Linked DNA regions of Homo sapiens. The protein of the gene in region 1 purifies or fractionates together with the protein of each later gene. This does not show direct contact. Each region holds a gene or a part of one and is shown in the gene's direction. Other genes may lie near its edges.

What was found.
Region 2: the proteins of MEX3A (region 1) and RC3H1 purify together in Homo sapiens (affinity purification with mass spectrometry, with the first as the bait; one large-scale study listed by BioGRID). This does not show direct contact.

What each region holds. Positions count from the first base shown.
Region 1 is NC_000001.11:156,079,666-156,083,926, reverse strand, and holds the start of MEX3A (RNA-binding protein MEX3A), read left to right. Parts: upstream 1-1,461; 5' UTR 1,462-1,928; coding exon 1,929-2,382; intron 2,383-4,261. UniProt on the Homo sapiens protein: RNA binding protein, may be involved in post-transcriptional regulatory mechanisms.
Region 2 is NC_000001.11:173,980,612-173,984,629, reverse strand, and holds part of RC3H1 (roquin-1), read left to right. Parts: intron 1-10; coding exon 11-131; intron 132-972; coding exon 973-1,212; intron 1,213-1,727; coding exon 1,728-1,903; intron 1,904-3,620; coding exon 3,621-3,821; intron 3,822-4,018. UniProt on the Homo sapiens protein: Post-transcriptional repressor of mRNAs containing a conserved stem loop motif, called constitutive decay element (CDE), which is often located in the 3'-UTR, as in HMGXB3, ICOS, IER3, NFKBID, NFKBIZ, PPP1R10, TNF, TNFRSF4 and in many more mRNAs.

The sequences.
Region 1 (4,261 bases):
TTGCATTACACTCCACCTTCCTGAAACTCTAAAAGTGCCTAACTCTCCAAGCCTTAAAAACTTATTTTCATTCTCACCGAATTTCCGGAGTCAAACGGGACTGAATGGGTTTTTTTGTTTGTTTGTTTTGTTTTTGTTTTTTTGTGGGGGGGACGGAGTCTCACTCTGCGATCTAGACTCACTGCAACTTCCGCCTCCCGGGTTCAAGCAATTCTCCTGTCTCAGCCTCCTGAGTAGCTGGGACTACAGGCGTCTGCCACCATGCTCGGCTAATTTTTGTATTTTTAGTAGAGACGAGGTTTCACCTTGTTGGTCAGGCTGGTCTCGAACTCCTGACCTCAGGTGATCCACCCGCCTCTGCCTCCCGAAGTGCTGGGATTACAGGCGTGAGCCACCGCGCCCGGCCCTGAATAGGTTTTCAATGGGAGAGAGGTGGAGGAAACAGAGTGGAAATTACGATGAGTGCTAAAGGACAGATCACCCCAAGCTGTATTCACAGCCCAGGCCTGAAGGAAGCCTGGGTTCCCAGTCCATCCTGGTCTCTCCTCCCTCCTGTCATATCCAAAGCTCAAGGCCCTCACCCCAAACGGTTAAGTCACCCCAGGCCTTTAAGACTTTTCCTGCCTGCCCACTCTCCGTCCGACCCCCAGTTCTGTCCCTGCACTCCTTCAACCTCTGCACTTCATCACTCCACCGCCCTCCCGACCCCCTCCACCGAGCAGAAGGACGTGAACTAACTCACCTCCCAGTCGGTGCCTCTGAGATCTCCGAGACTGGGGGGGCGGGGGGCGGGCGAGGGGAGATGGCTTGCTGTTTAGGGATGAGGGGACCCCATCCTTTGCCAGGGGGTTCCAGCCCCAGCCTGGCACCCTTTCCTGGCCCCCACAACACGCAGAGCCCAGCTCTCCCCCCATCGCTGCTGCGGGCTTTGTCTTCTCTGCCGAGAACCTCTCCCCGCGGCCGGGCTCCGGGATCGACTCTGGGAGAGCGGGAGGGGGAAGCGGAGAGTGAGCGCGGCAGGGAGCGGGGAGAGGGGAGCGAGAGAGAAAGCCGCAGTGAGCGAGCGGGGACGGCTCCCGGCTCCCCGCCCCCGGCCCCGGCCCCCCCTCCTCATTTCCATAAAAAAGCGGGCCCCCAGGACCGGCCGGCGCGGGGCAGGAGCGGGTCCTGGGAGGGGGCGCGCGGCGTTAGCCAGCTTCATACCCGCTCTGTTTCCGCATACTACCCCTTCTCCCCGCACCCTCCCCTTAAAAAATTAGGGACCTCGACTTCCATCCCACTCCTAGCTTGCCCCGGAGCTGCGAGGAAAGACCGAAGGCCACATCCCTATCCTCCTCGGGTCAAGGAATTTGTCCCCGCGCCCCCAAGGGCGGGAAACTACAACTCCCGGCATGCCCCGGGCGCCCCCGGCGCGCCCCCCTCCCGTCAGTTTCATGCTGCTCCATCCAGTTCATTTAAAACAAAAGAGTTTGAGCGCTGGAAGGGGCTGGGCTCTATTGGGGGCCACTGAGCGCCGCTCCCGGACTGGGGCTCGGTGCGGGAGCCTAACGGGGGCGCCTGGACAGCGGGGGCTAGAGACTCCCAGGTCCGAGGCGGGAGGGGTGGGGGCAGAGATCCTGCAGCCCCCCGCCCCCCGTCACCCCCGGAGAGGAGAGGAGATCTGCTTTCTTGGTTTTGCTTCTCTTTCCCCCCACCCCCACCCCGGGGGCTGGGGCGAGGGGAGTCGGGTTACAGGGTGTTTGGGGAGGGGGGCTTAGGGGGAGGGTCTATCTTTCTATCTCGCTTTCTTCCCCCCTCCCCAGTTCTTTGTTCCCCCCTCCCCACACACCCCCTCCTCTCCTCTCCCCTCCCCTCCTCTCTCCTCTTTTCCCTTCCACCACCTCTCTCTCTCTCTCTCCCTCTCTCTCTCCCCCAGCTTTTGTTTCGCCATGCCTAGTCTAGTGGTATCTGGAATAATGGAAAGAAATGGGGGCTTTGGAGAACTAGGATGTTTCGGGGGAAGCGCTAAGGACCGAGGGCTGCTGGAAGACGAGCGCGCCCTTCAGCTGGCTCTCGATCAACTCTGCCTCCTGGGTTTGGGGGAGCCCCCCGCCCCCACGGCGGGCGAGGACGGGGGAGGTGGGGGGGGCGGCGCCCCCGCGCAGCCGGCCGCCCCCCCGCAGCCGGCCCCGCCGCCGCCGCCCGCGGCGCCCCCGGCCGCCCCGACGGCGGCCCCCGCAGCGCAGACGCCCCAGCCCCCCACCGCCCCCAAAGGGGCGAGCGACGCCAAGCTCTGCGCTCTCTACAAAGAGGCCGAGCTGCGCCTGAAGGGCAGCAGCAACACCACGGAGTGTGTTCCCGTGCCCACCTCCGAGCACGTGGCCGAGATCGTGGGCAGGCAAGGTAAGCGGGGCGCCGGGACCACTGAGAGGGACTGTAGTGGGGGCACCCTCGTCCCTAGCGCGGAAAGTTCATTTCTTCCCTTCTTGCCCGCCTCCGGCTCTGTCCCTTCCCCACAAAGGGGGACCCGCCCCCTACCCTGATTTCAAAGTGCCACAAAGTTCCCCGTTACCCCTAGTCGGGACGGTTCTCCAGATCCTTCCTCCCCCAGGACTCTGCCTTTAGACAAAGAAATATCCTCGCACTGGAAGAGGGAAAGGGGAGGGGATCGGTCTCCCAATCCAGGGAGGCTGTCCTGAGGGGGTGTCCACTCCTAACCAGAAAAACTGACGGAATGTGCAAAGAGTTACTCAGAAGCCTGTACTCTGGTATCTGCTCCTAGGCTGGGGAGGGGGCATCCCTGGGGCCCCCAGCCGCCTGGAGTTACAGACTTTGGGGGAGACCTGGCCCTCGAAGCCAGACTGAGTATCTGTCTCTTTGTTGGGCTGAGTGTAGGAATGGAAGGGGGTGTGGCCCAGGGGAGGGTCCCAGCCTGGGGAAGAGGCGGTGAGGGGGGCTGCTGAGAGGAGGGGGTCCTGTGGTCACCCACACCCCAAAGTTGGATTGTCTCTGGGGTTTTGGAAGGGGTGTCTCCAAGGAAGTGCTACGTCCTGGCTTGGACCTCTCCTCTTCCCTCTCTGGCTTTTGTTCTGGGCTGGCCACGGCCTTGGGCCAGAGGCCTAGAGAGGGGTCTCTGGTAGTGAAAGAGTAGGACAGGGTAGGAGGGGGAATGCTGGGGGGTAAGAAACCTTCACCTGGAAATTTGGTGGAGGGCGTGTGTCTGGGTGTGTTGGGAGGGGGTGCAGAATTAATCCAGCGTAGTATGTCTGGTACCACACCCTCTGCTGCTCCAGCATCCCTGGGTGGGTGAGTGGGGGTGTTGGTGAAGGTCCAAATTGAGCAGACGGGATCTTGGGGACCCTTCCCTCTCCTGGCTTCTCAAAGGAGAGTGTGGGGGGCAGGATTTGGAAATTGCAAAGAGGCTGGGCTGGGGAGGTGTGGGGTGGGGGAGGAGCTGTCCCACAGTGGGGAACAATAGAGGAGCTGCATTCCGGCTGGGAGTGCGGGAGGAGGCCAGCTTCTGGCAGAGGAAAAGGGGAGGCGGGCCAGGGGGGCCCCTACTCCACATCCCACCTTATCCACTGGGAGTGCTGGGGGTTAGGGGGATTTCACGGAGAGATCCAGAATGGAGGAGGGGAAGATGCCACTCCCCTGCACAGCCCTCATCCCCCTGGGGCACTCCATCTCTTGAGATTTCTGATTTAGAAAGTTGGATTTCCTCTTGTCAGAAACTGGGGATCCAAAGCCCTGGAATTGGGTGGGGACGGACATTGCTATCTTTTCTTGGGTGTGGGGGTGGTCTTGGGAGGCCCCGGAATTTAATGGAGTCATTCTTTCCTCTTCTGCCTCCGCATCAGATGGGCTTGTCCCTCATAAAAGTAAGGGGATTTTTATTCACAAAAGATAAGCCTGCCCCTCAGTCAAGTATATGGAAGTCCTCCCTCTTGTCTAACCTCCCTCCTCCTGCTGCAGTGTTAGTGCTCCTCTGTTTGACCTCTAGGAAGGTGAAGCCCAGTGGGTCTTCCCTTCAAGAGATGCTTCTTTGGGGTTGCAGAACCCAGGAAGAGACCCACCACCAGCTTTGCACCTCCAGGCCTCTAGCGTTTCTTCTTACTCGATGCCTTGGCCTGTCCTCCTCACCCCAACCCCAACCGCTAAAGATACCTAGCTCTCATTTAAGTTTTTGGACCCAAAACTTACGGCCAGAACCCAGGTGCCCATCAAACGATATGTGAGTAGAAATGGTAGGAGAGGGGAGTTCACTGTTTTGTGACCCTCCATA
Region 2 (4,018 bases), about 18 Mb from region 1:
TGGCCTCCAGGTCCCTGAGCAGCAGCCTATTACTTTGTGTAGTGGGGTTGAAGACACAAAGCATTATGAGGAAGCCAAGAAATGTGTAGAAGAATTAGCATTGTACTTAAAACCGCTCAGCAGTGCTAGAGGTAAGTTTGTTTTTGTTTCTTATTTAAAGAGTAAAACTGCTTTTTTAAATACTCAGTACATAATCCTATATAAGTCCTGAGGAATTCCCAAAAAACCTAACTAGAGGTAAATTTGATGCAATTATCCATACTAAGTAAATGTCTACTAAAGAGACTTGTTACCATAAAAATTGTGAGCTATTAAGCAAATGTTAATGAAATTTATCTATTGTAAACTAAACTCATTTTGTGCTAAATATCATGACACAAACCACATCAAATAAAATAGTGAATTTTTAGTTTATGTGATGATGGAAACATTATTCGAATGATGATAATAGCAAATATAACTACTTACTTCAGCAGTGCTTTCCATCATTTGACAATTCTGAATGGTTTGCCTTCTATCCAGTTTTATATGCTATGCTATAGGCGGTATAATGAATACGGAAGTTGCCATTACTGCACAGAAAGGGCTTGCTATTTAATTAGGAAAATAAGGTTAACCACTGTCAAATAATATACCAGAACTCTTAGGACTTCAAGATTTACATTATAAACTAATTATCAATGTTGTCTAGTCCTTTTTTCTTTCTTCCTCTATGATTAAAATGAGTAATGGTATATTTAATGTCATAATGAATGCTAAGTGCACATGAGATAACTCATGTATACATTTGTATACTTTAAAAATGTATACTTAAGTAAGCTTTACATGTGTGGTTTTATTTGTTGCTTATTTTAAATACTCTAGTAGTCCCAGAACTAGTCACATACCCACAAGTTAACCCAACAGAAGAATTGCTCCTGGACTGTAAAATTGCATTGTGAACCTAGGAATAACTTCTTTACTCTTTTAAAGGAGTGGGTCTGAACAGCACTACTCAGAGTGTTCTGAGTCGCCCAATGCAGAGGAAGCTTGTGACTCTAGTCCACTGTCAACTAGTAGAAGAAGAAGGCAGGATTCGTGCCATGAGGGCAGCTCGATCTTTAGGTGAACGAACAGTTACAGAGCTCATTCTCCAGCACCAGAATCCTCAGCAACTCTCTTCCAATCTTTGGGCAGCAGTAAGGGCTAGGGGATGCCAGTTCCTTGGACCAGGTACATAATTAACTTTAGGTATTTATTCTGCTGGTAATTCTAAAAGTATGATGTAGGAATTATAAGTGATGTACAAAGCCTAGTTCTTTGCAGTATTTTATTGTTACCAACTAATATCTTGTTTGATGTTCATGGCTTGGGCAATTCCATGTAACTTAGTGGACTTACTAGGTGAACTTAGTGAACTTAAAACTTTTCTCTTAATGCCAAAAGTTGTTTCTTTTTTTAATTTTTTGATTTTTCCTTTTTTTCACACCTGTAGCAGGAAGTTCATTCATTTTGATAGAAGTTTTTCTTAAATTTATTAATCACTTTATCTGTTTTCTTTATAAAATATATAGAATGTAATACAAAATTGCTCACAAAAATGGTGTAAAAGTGTGTTGCTGGTTAATCTTAACTGTATTGCCAGTTAATTGAATAGCTGCAGAAATGATTAAATATTCCCCTTCTAATAAATGGATTTATCTTATCTATGTACTTGATAAATTTTGGTTTTGCCCAACTTTCCCTAGCAATGCAGGAGGAAGCTTTAAAGTTGGTTCTGCTGGCCTTAGAAGATGGTTCTGCTTTGTCAAGAAAAGTATTGGTTCTGTTTGTGGTGCAAAGATTGGAGCCACGGTTTCCTCAAGCCTCTAAAACTAGCATTGGGCATGTTGTTCAGCTCCTTTATAGAGCCTCCTGTTTCAAGGTATGAACCTACATTAAAGCTCAGCTTGAAAGGAAATATTGTTCTTTCCCCAAAGTTAAGTAGTAAAACTTTGAGTTTAATAAAGTTGCCTGTATCTTTTCAGAAAATCTCAGCAATTTTTCTTTATTCTTTTAAAGAATGTAGATGGGGTCTTATTATAGTTAAATACTATTATATTGAATTTTTGTATGTTCAATATTGAACAACATAGATCAAGTCAAGGTTTATAGATTTTTGTATTTGAAGAGACTAAGAAACTATATCAATTTCTTACCAAGACTGTGCAGAATTGGTCTGAAGAGAGAGTTATTGAAGCACAAATAAATTTTATTTATTTATTTTTATTTTTTTGAGACAAAGTCTTGCTGTCGCCCAGGCTGGAGTGCAGTGCATGATCTCGGCTCACTGCAACCTCCACCTCCTGCGTTCAAGCGATTCTCCTGTCTCAGCCTCCCGAGTAGCTGGGATTATAGGCAGGGCCACTGCACCTGGCTACTTTTTGTATTTTTGGTAGAGACGGGGTTTCGCCATGTTGGCCAGGCTGGTCTCGAACTCCTGACCTCAGGTGATCTGCCCGCCTCAGCCTCCCAAAGTGCTGGGATTACAAGCGTGAGCCACCGCGCCCAGCCAAATAAATTTTATTCAGAGATTTTCTCCTAGTGTAATTCCACATATACAATAATGAAGTTCCATTTGCCATTTCAGTTTATATGGTAATGCTGGACATAGTCTCTTATCCCAAATTGAATAAGCACCGCCTCAAACATTGCTACTCACTATGTATCATTTATTGTACATCCAGTATTATTTTTCTGACTTTTTTTTTTGAGATGCAGTCTTGCTCTGTCGCCCAGGCTGGAGTGCAGTGGTGTAGTCTTGGCTCACTGCATCCTCTGCCTTCTGGGTCAAGCAATTCTCCTGCCTCCAGCCTTCTAATCATAATCATTATGATTATTCTAGTCTAGCATCTCACACTTTACACTTTCTGGTAGTAGCCCATCCCACAAAACTCCATGAAGAATTAAGCCAAGTACAAATTAAATCATTTTTAGAATTACACCAGCATCTGAAGCTCTACAGTCATCAGTCCCACCTAGCTCATTGTCAGGCAATCCCAAGAGTCATAATCCACATTTATGGAGAAGAAACATATTGTTTTTCAGAATATAGAATTGTATTAGTATTTTTTTCTTTTCAAAAATACATATACACACACATACACCTTAAACTGAATGTATATGTTAAAGTATGTCAAATCTTTGGATTTCATTCCAGCACATACAGATTGACTATACAAAAATCCAAAATCCAAAACTTTTTGAACACCAACATGATGCTCACATGCTCATTGGGGCATTTCAGATTTTCAGAGTAAGGATGCTCAAGTGGTTTAATGCAGATATTCTAAAATTTGAAAAAATCTGAAATCTGATAACACTTCTGGCCCAAGCATTTTGGGTAAGAGATTCTCAGCCTGTATTTATTCTTTCTGAAAGACCTATCCAGAAAATGTTGGCCTAAATCCAACTTGACTCAGAATGGGATGATAGCAATATACCTACCTCAACAAGTTAAGGAGAAAATATTTTGCAGGCAAATGGTATATTCATTTAATCTTGCTGTTGATGCTAAATTTGTTACATTAAAAATTATATGTTCATATAAAGCATAAACTCATTTTTTTGACTTCATTATGAGATTATTTGTGTCTTATTAGGTCACCAAACGTGATGAAGACTCTTCTTTGATGCAGCTGAAAGAAGAATTTAGAACCTATGAAGCTCTGCGGCGAGAACATGACTCCCAGATAGTGCAGATTGCTATGGAAGCAGGCTTACGAATTGCACCGGACCAGTGGTCCTCTTTGCTTTATGGAGACCAGTCTCACAAATCTCATATGCAGTCCATTATTGACAAGGTAGGACCTTTTTTGTTCCTTACTTCTTAGACTAATCTTGGCATTTTGGTAATTCATTTAACAAATGTATATTAAAGTGAATACTGTATAGCTTTTGTAAATTGTATTTATAGCCAGTGTCATGTCATAACCAATCACGTTATAATACCACTTTGTTCATTTAAAGATTTGATTAGTTTATATTTTTTATTTTACTT